4 linked regions of the Homo sapiens genome follow. The protein of the gene in region 1 purifies or fractionates together with the protein of each later gene. This does not show direct contact. Each region holds a gene or a part of one and is shown in the gene's direction. Other genes may lie near its edges. The genes, in order: SREK1IP1, FSAF1, KPNA5 and MAP1A.

The links.
Region 2: the proteins of SREK1IP1 (region 1) and FSAF1 purify together in Homo sapiens (affinity purification with mass spectrometry; one large-scale study listed by BioGRID and IntAct). This does not show direct contact.
Region 3: the proteins of SREK1IP1 (region 1) and KPNA5 purify together in Homo sapiens (affinity purification with mass spectrometry; 2 studies listed by BioGRID and IntAct, with this or other methods). This does not show direct contact.
Region 4: the proteins of SREK1IP1 (region 1) and MAP1A purify together in Homo sapiens (affinity purification with mass spectrometry; 2 studies listed by BioGRID and IntAct, with this or other methods). This does not show direct contact.

Annotation. Positions count from the first base shown.
Region 1 is NC_000005.10:64,737,648-64,741,217, reverse strand, and holds part of SREK1IP1 (protein SREK1IP1), read left to right. Parts: intron 1-17; coding exon 18-161; intron 162-3,570. UniProt on the Homo sapiens protein: Possible splicing regulator involved in the control of cellular survival.
Region 2 is NC_000001.11:231,234,672-231,238,241, reverse strand, and holds part of FSAF1 (40S small subunit processome assembly factor 1), read left to right. Parts: intron 1-3,570.
Region 3 is NC_000006.12:116,722,673-116,726,242, forward strand, and holds part of KPNA5 (importin subunit alpha-6), read left to right. Parts: exon of another isoform or gene 1-652; intron 653-1,624; coding exon 1,625-1,703; intron 1,704-3,078; coding exon 3,079-3,204; intron 3,205-3,570. UniProt on the Homo sapiens protein: Functions in nuclear protein import as an adapter protein for nuclear receptor KPNB1. Binds specifically and directly to substrates containing either a simple or bipartite NLS motif.
Region 4 is NC_000015.10:43,520,587-43,524,156, forward strand, and holds part of MAP1A (microtubule-associated protein 1A), read left to right. Parts: intron 1-54; coding exon of another isoform or gene 55-137; intron 138-385; coding exon of another isoform or gene 386-526; intron 527-737; coding exon of another isoform or gene 738-887; coding exon 888-3,570. UniProt on the Homo sapiens protein: Structural protein involved in the filamentous cross-bridging between microtubules and other skeletal elements.

The DNA of each region.
Region 1 (3,570 bases):
TTGTTTGTTTCACTTAGCTGGTCACCTGACTTTTGAATGCCGCAATTTTCTCCGAGTAGACCCTAAAAGGGACATAGTTTTGGATGTCAGCAGTACAAGTAGTGAAGATAGCGATGAAGAGAATGAAGAACTGAATAAATTGCAGGCATTACAGGAAAAAAGTAAGCAATATTTTTTTCCATTCTTTAGAAATGTTTGTAAATGTTCTGTCATATTATATCATGCTTTCCATTATACTTACTAAGATCTCTTTTATAGTTTATGTAAGAGCTACTGCATAGGAAATAGGTTTTAAATATTGTAAGTTATTTGCCTAAGATTGAACAGCTAAGCAATTACAGATCCAGGAGGCAAGTCTATTTCTGACACACAGCTTATGTTTTTTGTTGTTGTTTTTCCCCCATCACATTAGGATATGTGTCAAATGGCTGAAAAAGTGTGATTTAAGATTTGGTTTCTAGTCCTATTTGGCAATTTGTTTTAGCACATGACTTTCACCAAGTGACTTAACCATCCTGAGGCTCAGCTGCCTTGTGGGATAACACAAAATGTTGGATTGTCAAATGATGCTCATGCAGATCAGTGATCTTAGCCAGTATCAAGCTTCACTAATAATTTCAAGTATACAAGTGATCGTGAGGCATAGGCAAAGCAGAGAGTTCTGGGCATGCCAATACAGCTCCCCAGGTATTTCCTTTCTACTTCATAACCCACTGTGATCAATATTAACATAAGAAGTTTCTTTATTACTTATACCAAAGAAAGTTGATTTGGTCATGAAACATACTCATTTTATGCTTGGATAGTTACATTTTCCAGGGAGCTATGCCCCATAAATCTATAGATTCCAGGTTTGTTTACCATAAGCAATCTCAGTTACATCCTACTAAAAGGATGTAAATGATAATTATATAAATAGGGGTTCTATGGCTAACAGATATCATTTATTTTTTTTCCAGGAGATCTATTGTTAGTGTGTTTCAGAGAGATTTCTCCAGGTCACTCTCTGTCTTTCCTGGACACATCCTCCTCTCTCCCTAGAGAGAGAGTGGATAGCGGACCTGTTATTTAACCCTTTCTTTCCCACGTTGTGTATAAAATAGCTCATCCTTGCAGTGGGGTTTTTAGGGATTAAACGTGATGCCATAAATTAAACTACTTTGTAAACTACAAAATGCACTATGGTAAATATCACTCTGAAATAAAATATAACTTATTTGAATATAATCTTAGACAAGGAATGAGAGAGTTACAAATTTTAAATTCATTTTAGTTTAGATTGTCGATGAACATTAAACAGTAAACTTTGTTTTTAATATCAAGCTTTCCATATTATGTCCAGTTAAGGTAAGTGAAGAAGTCAAATGTAAGGTGCTAGAACAAGCTGAAAAGGAAAAAGAGGGAGAGAATCCCAAAGAGGGCAAACAAGAGTCATATCATATATGAGTATATACAGCTTCAGGGTAAAGACAGTTGATTGAATACACACACTTTTGTTCTCTACTGAAATACCACTAAAATGCCAGAAGTAGAAAAAAATTTAAAGACGTAAACTCACAAGGGCAAAGAAACTGAGTTAGGAGGGAATAGCAGTAAAATTTTGGAAACTGAAAAGCAGAAGAGTGATAACTGATTACACTCTTGAAAAAGCTAAATTCTTCAGCAGTGTGGAAAGCTGTGAAGTAACCCGACATATATTCTAGAATCCCCTAAAGACATGATAATTAGTATCCTTGGGTACCTCTGGCTGAATATAAGGCTAAAAACAGGAGGATTGGTTTGAAGTCTCCACGAGTTAGACCCTCAGTTCCCTTCCCCTATGAAGTCAGATGACTTCCCTTCATCACCCCAGCAGACTACTGGAGGTTTATTTTCTAGAGAGGGTAAAACATAGGTTCTTTAGACTGGGACACACTAACCATAGCTGAAAGCAGGGAGGAAGTTAAAGGCTGAGAACTTTCTTCACCTATTTGGTTCCCAGACATATATCACAATTAGTCTAGGAAATACTTCACTCAAATGAGTCCCAGAAAGAAAATTTCGAAGAACTGAAGGACATTAGTTTTACAGTTGAAAAGGTGTCACAAGTACCAAACACAGAGCTAAAAATAGACCCACACAAAGGCACACCATTATAAAACTTCATATCACAGGGAACAAGGAAAATATAATCCAGGCTTCCAGGATCAGGGATTAAACAGGTCATCTGTCAAAGATCAGGAGTCAGAATAGCTTTCCACTTCTCTAAAGCAGTCCTGAAAGCTAATAGATGTGGGGAATGCCTTCACATTTTGGAAGGGAAATTATATCCAAGTCAGAATAATATTTTCAACCAAATTATTAGCCAAGCGTGAAAATAGAATAAAGTTGTTTTCAGATATCTTCATTTTAGGTTGATTTTTATATATGGCATGAGGTGAGGGTACAGTTTTATTCTTTTGTATGTGGATATACACTTGACCCAAGACCATTTGCTGAAGACATCCTTTTCCCATTGTGTGTTCTTAACACCCCTCATGGTCAGTTCATCATATATGCATGGGTTTATTCCTGGACTTCCTATTCTGTTACATTGGTCTATGTGTCTGTCTTTATGTCAGTACAATACTATTTTAATTACTATAGCTGTGTAATATATTTTGAAATCAAGGAATGTGATGCCTACAGCTTTGTTCTTCTTAAGATTGCTTTGGCTGTATGGGGTCTTTTGTGGTTCCGTATACATTTTTGGATTATGTTTTATATATCTGTCAAAAGAGCCATTGGGATTTTGGTAGGGATTCCATTGAATTCATAGATTGCTTTAGATAATGTAGGCATTTTAACAATATTCTTTCAATCCATGAGCACATATATTGTCAAATGCTCTTTCTGCATCTATTGAAATATTCATTTGATTTTTAGCCTTCCTTTCTTAATGTGATGTTTCACATTTATGGATTTGCATATATTGAGCCATCCTTGTGTCCCATGGATGAATCCCACTTGATCATAGTGTATGATCCTTTTAATGTGCTGCTAAGTTTGGTTTGCTAGAATTTTGCTGAAGATTGTTGCATATATGTTCATCAGGTGTATTGGTCTGTAATTTTATTTTCTTAAGGTACCTTTGTCTGGCTTTGGTATCAGGGTGATACCAGCCTTGTAAAATAAGTTTGGAAGTGATCTCTTCTCTCCAGTTCTTTAGAAGTGCTTTGGAAGAATTGGCTTAATTGCTCTTTAAATGTTTGGTTGACTTCACCAGCAAAGCCATCTAGTCCTGGGCTTTTCTCTGCTGGGAGGATTACTGACCCAGTGTCTTTACTTGTTACTGGTCTGTTCCTATTTTCGATTTCTTCATGATTCACTCCTGATACATTTTATGTTTCAAGGAGTGTATTCTTGTAAGTTACCCAATTTGTTGACATATAAATGTTCCTTGTATTCTCTTATATAGTTATATATTTATATAACACCCCTTTATATTTCTGTGACATCACTTATACTCTCTTTTTTCAGTTCTAATTTTGGCCCTGTCTTTTTTCTGAGTTAGTCTAGTTAAAGATATGTCAGTTTTATCTTTTTATTAAA
Region 2 (3,570 bases), on another chromosome or scaffold:
ATTCAGTCCCCAAGGGAGGTGTGGTTGCTCCTCCAAATGTTTTTAATTTTTTTTTTTTTTGAGACGGAGTCTCGTTCTGTTGCCCAGGCTGGAGTGCAGTGGCACGATCTTAGCTCATTGCAAGCTCCACCTCCCAGGTTCATGCCATTCTTCTGCCTCAGCCTCCCAAGTAACTGGGACTACAGGTGCCTGCCACCACGCCTGGCTAGTTTTTTGTATTTTTAGTAGAGTCAGGGTTTCACCATGTTAGCCAGGATGGTCTTGATCTCCCGACCTCGTGATCTGCCCGCCTTGGCTTCCCCAAATGCTGGGACTACAGGCGTGAGCCACTGCGCCTGGCCCCAAATGTTTTTAATTTATCTATTCACAAGAATATCATAATGGCTTTGACAAATTCATTGCTATTCCATTTCTGTAACATCCCCCACGTCCTGCAAACCTTTGTCTATCAACAAAGAAGTGAGGATTGAACGTATTAGTTTCTAAGCCTGCTATAACAAATTACCACAAACATGGTGACTTAAACCAACAGAAATGTATTCTCTTACAGTTCCGTAGTCCAGAAGTCCAAAATCAAAGTGTTGGCAGGGCCATGCTCCCTCTGAGGGCTTTGGGGGAGAATCCTTTGCCTCTGACCAGAAGGTAGCTCTAACAGTTTCCTTGGCTTGTGGTTGCATAACTATAATCTCTGCCTCCGTCTTAATGTGGTTTTCATCCCTGTGTCCCTGAGTCTCATGTTTCCCTCTGCCTTCCTCTTTGCTTTAGGCCCACCCTGAATCTGGGATGATCTCCTTTTGAGATGTTTAATTATAAAGATCCCTCTCCAAGTAAGATCACATTCACAGGTTCTGAAGAGGAGTAGGACATGGCCATATGTTTTTAGAGGCCACAATTCTACCCACTACGAAGATGGTTTGGCTTGCATTGTTCTTTATGAATGTATAAATGTATGTTAGTGTCCAGTGTTTGCCACATCTTTATGGTTTTAAAAACCATCTGTATAATCTTTTCTAAAATTCAGGTAGCATTTCATATCAAGCTTGCTGGCATCTCTTCCTCAAAGATCGTTAGCGCATTCTGCAGGCTGAGCGTGGTGGCTCACGCCAGTAATCCGAGCACTTTGGGATGCCAAGGCCAGAGGATTGCTTGACTTCAGGAAGTCGAGACTGCAGTGGGCTGTGATTGTGTCACTGCACTCCAGCGGGGGTGACAGAGCGAGACCCTTTCTCCAAAAAAAAAAAAAAAGATTATTAGTGAATCTGTAACCATGTCTACCTTTATTTTAGGATTCTAGATAAGCTTCTTAACTCTTATGTTCCAAATATAAGGCTCTGGGAACTGTTACGGGAGGGTCAAGAAATGGATTCCCTTGGTGTTTGGGGCAACCAGAGCCCCGAAGCTGGCCATCTCCCAGTACCCCAGTGTACCCTACAAATACTGGTATTTTCTGTATGTGTCATGATATGAAAAATGTTGGTGAGCACTGCTTTGCAATATAATTCAGCATTTGAAGACTTCAACTAACATAAAGCATTTAGGCACCCTTTCTTGTTTCTTCAAATGTCTCAGACTTCAGTTTCCTCTTATATTCCCTCATGTTCTTTTTTCTGGAATGGAAAGTTTTCTTTTTAATAGAAAAGACAGAAGAGTTGGGATTGAATGAGTCTGCATTTCCCTGTTGCTTAATAATAGAACATCTGTGGCAGTCTGTCAAATTGTCTTTTGCTTCCCGTTCCAAGCGAGCCCTGATGCATTCTAGTTGGCTCTTCTCAGGAGCCTCAGCTCACTCTACGTTTTGAACTTCCTGACCTTAATGAAAATTTTCATTTGTCATTGCTGCTCTCTGCCCTTTCCTCTTGTTTTTTTTTTAAATGTGTCCTTTGAAAATGTGAGTGTGTCTGGTTAAGGAAACAGAATGTGGACACATTAAAAACACATACACCTGTAAAATGACCTCAGAATGTTGACATTGCGGTGTGGAAATAAATACACATGAATATAATGCTAGTTCTTATGGCATATCCTGGGTATGCCAAGTTAAAGGGTAGTCAGCCAACTGGTGCTAATTGGAATACACCAGCTGTGCTGAGTTTGTGTAACATGGGAAAGTATAGTTGTGCCCTTGTTCTCTAAAAACTTCTAAGCCATTGTAGGACAGTTAAACAGACATGGGTGGCAAAAATATATGATGGGTAATGGTAATCTCCATGACCAATCATAGCATCAGCTGGTCATTTTTAGAGAATGCTTGAGAAAGGAAGAAGGGGATGGTGAGTTGGACAACAATCCAGCTGGCCCTGCCTAGACCCAGGAAATTACCCTATTTTTCCAGAACTTGTGCTATAAATTCTATGATTAAGCTGCATCGTGCATTGAAGCAGGTTTTCATGGGGTCATCTCGGAACTTGGCCACCATTTATATATATTTTTTTATGTTTAGAGACAGGGTGTCACTCTGTCACTCCTGCTGGAATGCAGTGGTGTGATCATAGCTCACTGCAGCCTCCAATTCCTGGGCCCAAGCCATCCTCCTGCCTCAGCCTCCCAAGTAGCTAAGACTATAGGGCACACCACTATGCCTGGCTCATTTTAAAATTTTTTGTAGAGTTGGGGTCTTGTTTTGTTGCCCAGGCTTGGTCTTGAACCACTGATCTCAAGAAGTCCTTTTGCCGCAGCCTCCCAAAGCACTGGGATTACAGGTGTGAGAGCCACTGTGCCCAGCCATCATGTCCCTTTTTTTTTTTTTGAGATGGAGTCTTGCCCTGTCACCAGGCTGGAGTGCAGTGGCCTGATCTCAGCTCACTACAACCTCCGCCTCCCGGGTTCAAGCGATTCTCCTCCCTCAGCCTCCTGAGTAGCTGGGACTACAGGTGCACACAACCATGCCCAGCTAACTTTTGTATTTTTAGTAGAGATGGGGTTTCACCATGTTGGCCAGGATGGTCTCGATCTTGACCTCGTGATCTGCCCTCCTTGGCCTCCCAAAGTGCTAGGATTACAGACGTGAGCCACTGCGTCCGGCCCATGTCCCATTTTTAATGTAGTGACTATACAAGTAATTTGGCTGGAAATAGTATGGGATCACATATTCATTCCTCCATTTATTCCACCAATCACTGGGTGCCTGCTGTCTGCAGACCTTGCAGATGGAGCAGTGAAGAAGATAATAGTGCTTTGCCTTTATGGAGTATACTGTACAATCTACTTTGGAGTTGAGCAATATAATTAGAAAGAATTATAAACAAATAGGGTCCTGGAGTACCATGCAGAACCTGGTCTAGATGTAGTGGTCAGGGAGGTCTCTCAGGAGGTAACATTCAGGCTAATGCTGTATTAAATGGTGCTGGTGAATGGGGCAGGGAAGAGTGAGCCAAGGAGGGAGAAAACAGCCTTGCTAACATTGTGGGGTATGAAGAGGCCTGGTGTGTTCAAGGAGCTGGAAGAAGTCTAGCAAGACTAGGACAGAAGGGAGAATGGTTGGTGCTAATACAAGAGAGACAGGCTGAGACCAGCCCTTGCCAGGTCTCATAGGCAGTAGTGAGCCTTGGGACTTTAGTCTTAAGTACATGA
Region 3 (3,570 bases), on another chromosome or scaffold:
TTTGAGTAAAAGTCCATGTAGTGAAAATCATTTAGTATTTCACCTCTATTAAAGATAACATGTTTCTCTTTGCTGGGCTGTTATAGCTATTTTCCTTAAAAAGAACAGCTTTTCTATACAAAGAAGTTAAAAACGTTGAAGAAAACTTGTTTTAAAAAGATGTTGTAACTTCATAACTTCATCTACTTACCCTCTTTAAAAAATGTATTATCTTCCTTCCTTTCTTCTTTTGTCGAGAAGCCATTGTAGGCCCAAACAAGGTAGATGGCACAAAGATAGGTCTGATAAGGAGTTGGGGGTCCCAGCATGAGGATAGCATCAGTGGAGGGTGGGCATGCAGGTTCAGCATGGGGGATCAGGGCCCCAACTTGATAATGACACCCACTGGGGTGAGCAGATAAGCAGGCTGGAGCAGGACTTGGAGCCAGCACATCATGGGGTACCAGTCTGGCTGAGGTAAAAGATTGGCTGATATAGGGAGGTTAGGAAAATAGAAGCTATTTCCTGTTATCGGAGAATAGAGATAAAAATATAGAAGAGGAGAAAGCCTGAATAATTTAATTATTTTAGATTAGAACTAGAAATATCAGTGTGAACTCATGGCTCTTAACATAGCTAGGTATGGAAATAAATATATACATGTGTGTAGGTATGTGTGTGTGCATCCTCTTGAAGGGCATGGGAACAGTAACACTTCTACATTAATAAGCTGAGGAAACTGAAGTTCAAATCGAAGTTTCTAAACACTACTCTCCATTGAAAGGAACCAAGATTGTTGGAGAAATGACTGGTTTCAGGACTGGGACTGAGAAAAATGTAAGATGAATGCAGGAAGTAATGAGTGCTCAAGTAATGGACAGATGTCAAAAGAACACAGAAGCCTATTTGAAGGGGTTCTCACTATCCAAACCTGGGACAGTTTGTGCTTTGAAATAAATTGCATTAATGTATATTTTATTGAATAAAATATGAAACCCATAAGTCCACACTAAAGCATGTAGTTAGAATGATAGTATTAGAAATACATCACTGGTAATAATACTAATAATTACCAATACTTCAGATAATAAGCATCAAGAGATGCTAAAATCTAGTGGTAAAGTAGGTTAAGGAGTGGGATTTTGCATTATCTCAAAGTATTTTGTTGCAAAATATTAATTATATTAATTATAAATGGGAAAACAATAATGGTAAAATGGAAAAGTCTGGCAGACATCATCATAATTAGTGACCAGAATTCAGTACCAATATAATGGGAAAAAACAGATTGGGATATAATGAAAAGGTTATAGCACTTACGATATCCCCCAGCCAAAGTATATAACCTGGGTCTTAATCATGAAAAACATTGGATAAACCCAAATAATGGGCTTATGATCTTCAAAAATGGCAAAATCATGAAAATTAAGGGAAGACTGAGAAATCATTCTGGAGAGACATGAAAACTGGCTGTAATGAACGATCCTGGATTAGATCCTTTGTTATAAAGATTATCAGAATAATTAGTAAAACTTCAATGGGATCTTTGGCTGAACACCCCGCAGGAGTTTGTAGTATTTTTGTAACTTCTGTGTAAATTTTAAATTCTTACTAGTATTTAGGTTCATGTTTTTATTATTTTTAGGCACAATGATTATAAAGTTGTATCACCTGCATTAAGGGCAGTTGGTAATATTGTGACTGGTGATGATATTCAAACACAGGTGAGTTCAAACTTGAGTATCATAAATTGTTAACATAAAGGACTTTAAAAAATTTATGTTTCATACAACTTGATTACATATTAATCAAGATTTTAGCATCACCATAATTGTGTGTGTGTCTGTATCTGTGTCTTGGAGGATGGTGAGATGTCAAAGAAGATGTGCTGTCAAGATTGACTCCAGCCAGATTTGGGTTACAATCTTTTTATTTATTTAGTAAGTTAGTTTAGTTAGAGACAGGATATTGCTCTTTCTCCTAGGCTGGGGTGCAGTGGTGTGATCATGGCTCACTGCAGCCTTTACCTCCCTGGCTTAAGCAGTCCTCCTGGCTCAAGCAGTCCTCCCGCCTCAGCCTTCCAAGTAGTTGGGACTGCAGGTGTGCACCACCACACCTGGCTAATTTATTTATTTATTTATTTTTTAGGGACAGGGTCTTGCTATGTTGCCCAAGTTGGTCTCAAATTCCTGAGCTCAAGTGATCCTCCTGCTTTGGCCTCTCAAAGCGTTAGACTTACAGGCATGAGCCAGTATGTCCAGCACAATCTTTCTTGAAGATAGAAACTTAAATTATTTAACACGTTAGATTCTCCTTTGTTTACCGCCTTACAGTGTATTTTTTATTCTAACCTACATATTTTCTTTCAGTTTTATCCTTTTAAAGGCCTATTTGGATACTAATCATAGTTATTAAATAGTTGCTCTTTAGTAATTGACAGTTATTCATTTAATATAGCTCTTGAAATGAAAATGCCATTCTAGACATATACTGTAATTTTCAGTTGGATTTCCAGTGCACTGCTCCACACTTCTTCACCAGATGAATTTAATGTAAATCATTGGAGTATTTTGAATATAGGAACATAATTAATCTTGCAATGGAATAAAGAATGTAAAGGGACAATGCAGAATATACTTGTTTACAGAAGAAGAGTAAGATAGTAAAAATTTTTATGAAGCCAATTGATTCTACATGCTGTTTTTAATGGTTGTAGAATTGGATTTTCTCAGACTGTATGATATATGTATTTTTTTCACCAATTCATTTGGCAAAACTAGAGGTTGGATCCTGACCTCGGTCACCAAATCTTTTTTCAGTTTTATCAGTTGAACTCTGAGAACATTTGTAAATATGAAGGATACACCTCTGATTTTCATTTTATTGGGTTGAGAACAGGGCAGTTCCTTATAGTGGCAGGAGACTAGGTTTATCAATAGCAGACGTGTAGAAGACAGCAAGTTTTACTTTGGGAGGAATTTCTCCTTTCTTAATTTCACTTTCTAGAATGGGTTTTGTACATCTAAATAATTCATTAGTAGATTTTCATATAGGTTATTTACTATAAAACTTTTTGTTTCCATTTCTAACTTGTTTTAGGTAATTTTGAATTGTTCTGCATTACCCTGTCTCTTACATTTATTGAGTAGCCCAAAGGAGTCAATTAGAAAAGAAGCCTGCTGGACTGTTTCTAACATCACTGCTGGAAATAGAGCTCAGATTCAGGTAACTACCCTTCAGATCTGAGAGTAGAACAGCAAGGTCTAAGAAGCCAGTTTGGACAAAAGTTAACACTTTTACTAAAAAAGATTCCTTTTTAAAAAGATACCGAAAAAGTATTTTAAAGAACATGGGCTTTCCTCCTCTAAAATAATAACATTTACTTGTAGTATTCTAGTGAAGAACATCAAGTGTGTGTGTGTGTGTGTGTGTCTAGCACAGTGCCTGACACATAATGGTTTGTCTTTAGAAAGATATTTTTTTGCATTAGTTTTAAATAAGTTATGCAATAATCTTCCTCTCAAAGCTTTTAATGATTTATTAGGGTTCTATCAAGCTTCTTGTGTCAGTGATTACTTATCCATTTTGATC
Region 4 (3,570 bases), on another chromosome or scaffold:
GCACCACAATTTCTATACCTATTCTCAATATAAATTCCTACATCTCTCCCTCAGGCCAGAGGACCCTTTGCCACCAGAGTGAGATCCTAGAGACCATCATCCTGGTAAATCCCAGTGCAGACAGCATCAGCTCTGAGGTAAGGCCAGGGCCTGTGCCTTGCCAAACAGGCCTGGTGCAAGTGCTATACCCACCCTTGCCAGTGCTACCACTATTAGGCCAAGAATTCCTCTCTCTGCCATCTAAGCTGACGTATTGTCTCCAGCCCACTCTGGAGGTGTTATGAGGGACATAAGTTGGGAGCATGTTCTTGAGGTACTGAGGGGCCATTCATTGCCTTTCCCTGGATTTCCTATATCTGTGACCACTCCCCTTCTTCCATTCCAGGTTCATCATCTTCTTAGCAGCTCATCAGCTTATAAACTACTAATCTTGAGTGGGCAAAGTTTAGAGCCTGGGGGAGACCTCATCCTACAGAGTGGCACCTACTCATATGAAAACTTTGCCCAGGTCCTTCACAACCCCGAGGTAAGTTCCATGCCAGAGTGTCTGGGAGAAAGGGTAGCACTAGAGCTGTGGGAGGGATCTAAGGGAAAGTCTCATATTGCATGACCATGGGGGGCCCTGGCAGAAAGGTAAGAGTCCACCTTGGAAAGAGGTGAAGATTAGGGTACTGAATCTAAGTCAGACCAAAACAACTCTAGTGACCTGATCAGGTTTCTATCTCCTATTCTTCTAGATTTCCCAATTGCTCAGCAATAGAGACCCTGGGATACAGGCCTTCCTTACCGTGTCCTGCTTAGGGGAAGGTGATTGGAGCCACCTGGGATTATCCAGTTCCCAAGAGACCCTGCACCTCCGGCTAAACCCTGAGCCCACTCTGCCCACCATGGACGGCGTGGCTGAGTTCTCCGAGTATGTCTCTGAGACTGTGGACGTGCCATCCCCATTTGACCTACTAGAGCCCCCCACCTCAGGGGGCTTCCTCAAGCTCTCCAAGCCTTGTTGCTACATCTTCCCAGGTGGTCGTGGGGACTCTGCCCTCTTTGCTGTCAATGGTTTCAACATCCTGGTGGATGGTGGCTCTGATCGCAAGTCCTGTTTTTGGAAGCTGGTACGGCACTTGGACCGCATTGACTCGGTGCTACTCACACACATTGGGGCAGACAACCTGCCAGGCATCAATGGACTACTGCAGCGCAAAGTGGCAGAGCTAGAGGAGGAGCAGTCCCAGGGCTCTAGCAGTTACAGCGACTGGGTGAAGAACCTTATCTCTCCTGAGCTTGGAGTTGTCTTTTTCAACGTGCCTGAGAAGCTGCGGCTTCCTGATGCCTCCCGGAAAGCCAAGCGTAGCATTGAGGAGGCCTGCCTCACTCTGCAGCACTTAAACCGCCTGGGCATCCAGGCTGAGCCTCTATATCGTGTGGTCAGCAATACCATTGAGCCACTGACCCTCTTCCACAAAATGGGTGTGGGCCGGCTGGACATGTATGTCCTCAACCCTGTCAAGGACAGCAAGGAGATGCAGTTCCTCATGCAAAAGTGGGCAGGCAATAGTAAAGCCAAGACAGGCATCGTGCTGCCCAATGGGAAGGAGGCTGAGATCTCCGTGCCCTACCTTACCTCTATCACTGCTCTGGTGGTCTGGCTACCAGCCAATCCCACTGAGAAGATTGTGCGTGTGCTTTTTCCAGGAAATGCTCCCCAAAACAAGATCTTGGAGGGCCTAGAAAAGCTTCGGCATCTGGACTTCCTGCGTTACCCTGTGGCCACGCAGAAGGACCTGGCTTCTGGGGCTGTGCCTACCAACCTCAAGCCCAGCAAAATCAAACAGCGGGCTGATAGCAAGGAGAGCCTCAAAGCCACTACCAAGACGGCCGTGAGCAAGTTGGCCAAACGGGAGGAGGTGGTAGAAGAGGGAGCCAAGGAGGCACGTTCAGAGCTGGCCAAGGAGTTAGCCAAGACAGAGAAGAAGGCAAAAGAGTCATCTGAGAAGCCCCCAGAGAAGCCTGCCAAGCCTGAGAGGGTGAAGACAGAGTCAAGTGAGGCACTGAAGGCAGAGAAGCGAAAGCTGATCAAAGACAAGGTAGGGAAAAAGCACCTTAAAGAAAAGATATCAAAGCTGGAAGAAAAAAAAGACAAGGAGAAAAAAGAGATCAAAAAGGAGAGGAAAGAGCTCAAGAAGGATGAAGGAAGGAAGGAGGAGAAGAAGGATGCCAAGAAGGAGGAGAAGAGGAAAGATACCAAACCTGAGCTCAAGAAGATTTCCAAGCCAGACCTAAAGCCCTTTACTCCTGAGGTACGTAAGACCCTCTATAAAGCCAAGGTCCCTGGAAGAGTCAAAATAGACAGGAGCCGTGCTATCCGTGGGGAGAAGGAGCTGTCTTCTGAGCCCCAGACACCCCCAGCCCAGAAGGGAACTGTACCACTCCCAACCATCAGTGGGCACAGGGAGCTGGTCCTATCCTCACCAGAGGACCTCACACAGGACTTTGAGGAGATGAAGCGTGAGGAGAGGGCTTTGCTGGCTGAACAAAGGGACACAGGACTAGGAGATAAGCCATTCCCTCTAGACACTGCAGAGGAGGGACCCCCAAGTACAGCTATCCAGGGAACACCACCCTCTGTTCCAGGGCTGGGACAAGAAGAACATGTGATGAAGGAGAAAGAGCTTGTCCCAGAGGTCCCTGAGGAACAAGGCAGCAAGGACAGAGGCCTAGACTCTGGGGCTGAAACAGAGGAAGAGAAAGATACCTGGGAGGAAAAGAAGCAGAGGGAAGCAGAGAGGCTCCCAGACAGAACAGAAGCCAGAGAGGAAAGTGAACCTGAAGTAAAGGAGGATGTGATAGAAAAGGCTGAGTTAGAAGAAATGGAGGAGGTACACCCTTCAGATGAGGAGGAAGAGGACGCGACAAAAGCTGAGGGTTTTTACCAAAAACATATGCAGGAACCCTTGAAGGTAACTCCAAGGAGCCGGGAGGCTTTTGGGGGTCGGGAATTGGGACTCCAGGGCAAGGCCCCTGAGAAGGAGACCTCGTTATTCCTAAGCAGCCTGACCACACCTGCAGGAGCCACTGAGCATGTCTCTTACATCCAGGATGAGACAATCCCTGGCTACTCAGAGACTGAGCAGACCATCTCAGATGAGGAGATCCATGATGAGCCGGAGGAGCGCCCAGCTCCACCCAGATTTCATACAAGTACATATGACCTGCCCGGGCCTGAAGGTGCTGGCCCATTCGAAGCCAGCCAACCTGCCGATAGTGCTGTTCCTGCTACCTCTGGCAAAGTCTATGGAACGCCAGAGACTGAACTCACCTACCCCACTAACATAGTGGCTGCCCCTTTGGCTGAAGAGGAACATGTGTCCTCGGCCACTTCAATCACTGAGTGTGACAAACTTTCTTCCTTTGCCACATCAGTGGCTGAGGACCAATCTGTGGCCTCACTTACAGCTCCCCAGACAGAGGAGACAGGCAAGAGCTCCCTGCTGCTTGACACAGTCACAAGCATCCCTTCCTCCCGTACTGAAGCTACGCAGGGCTTGGACTATGTGCCATCAGCTGGTACCA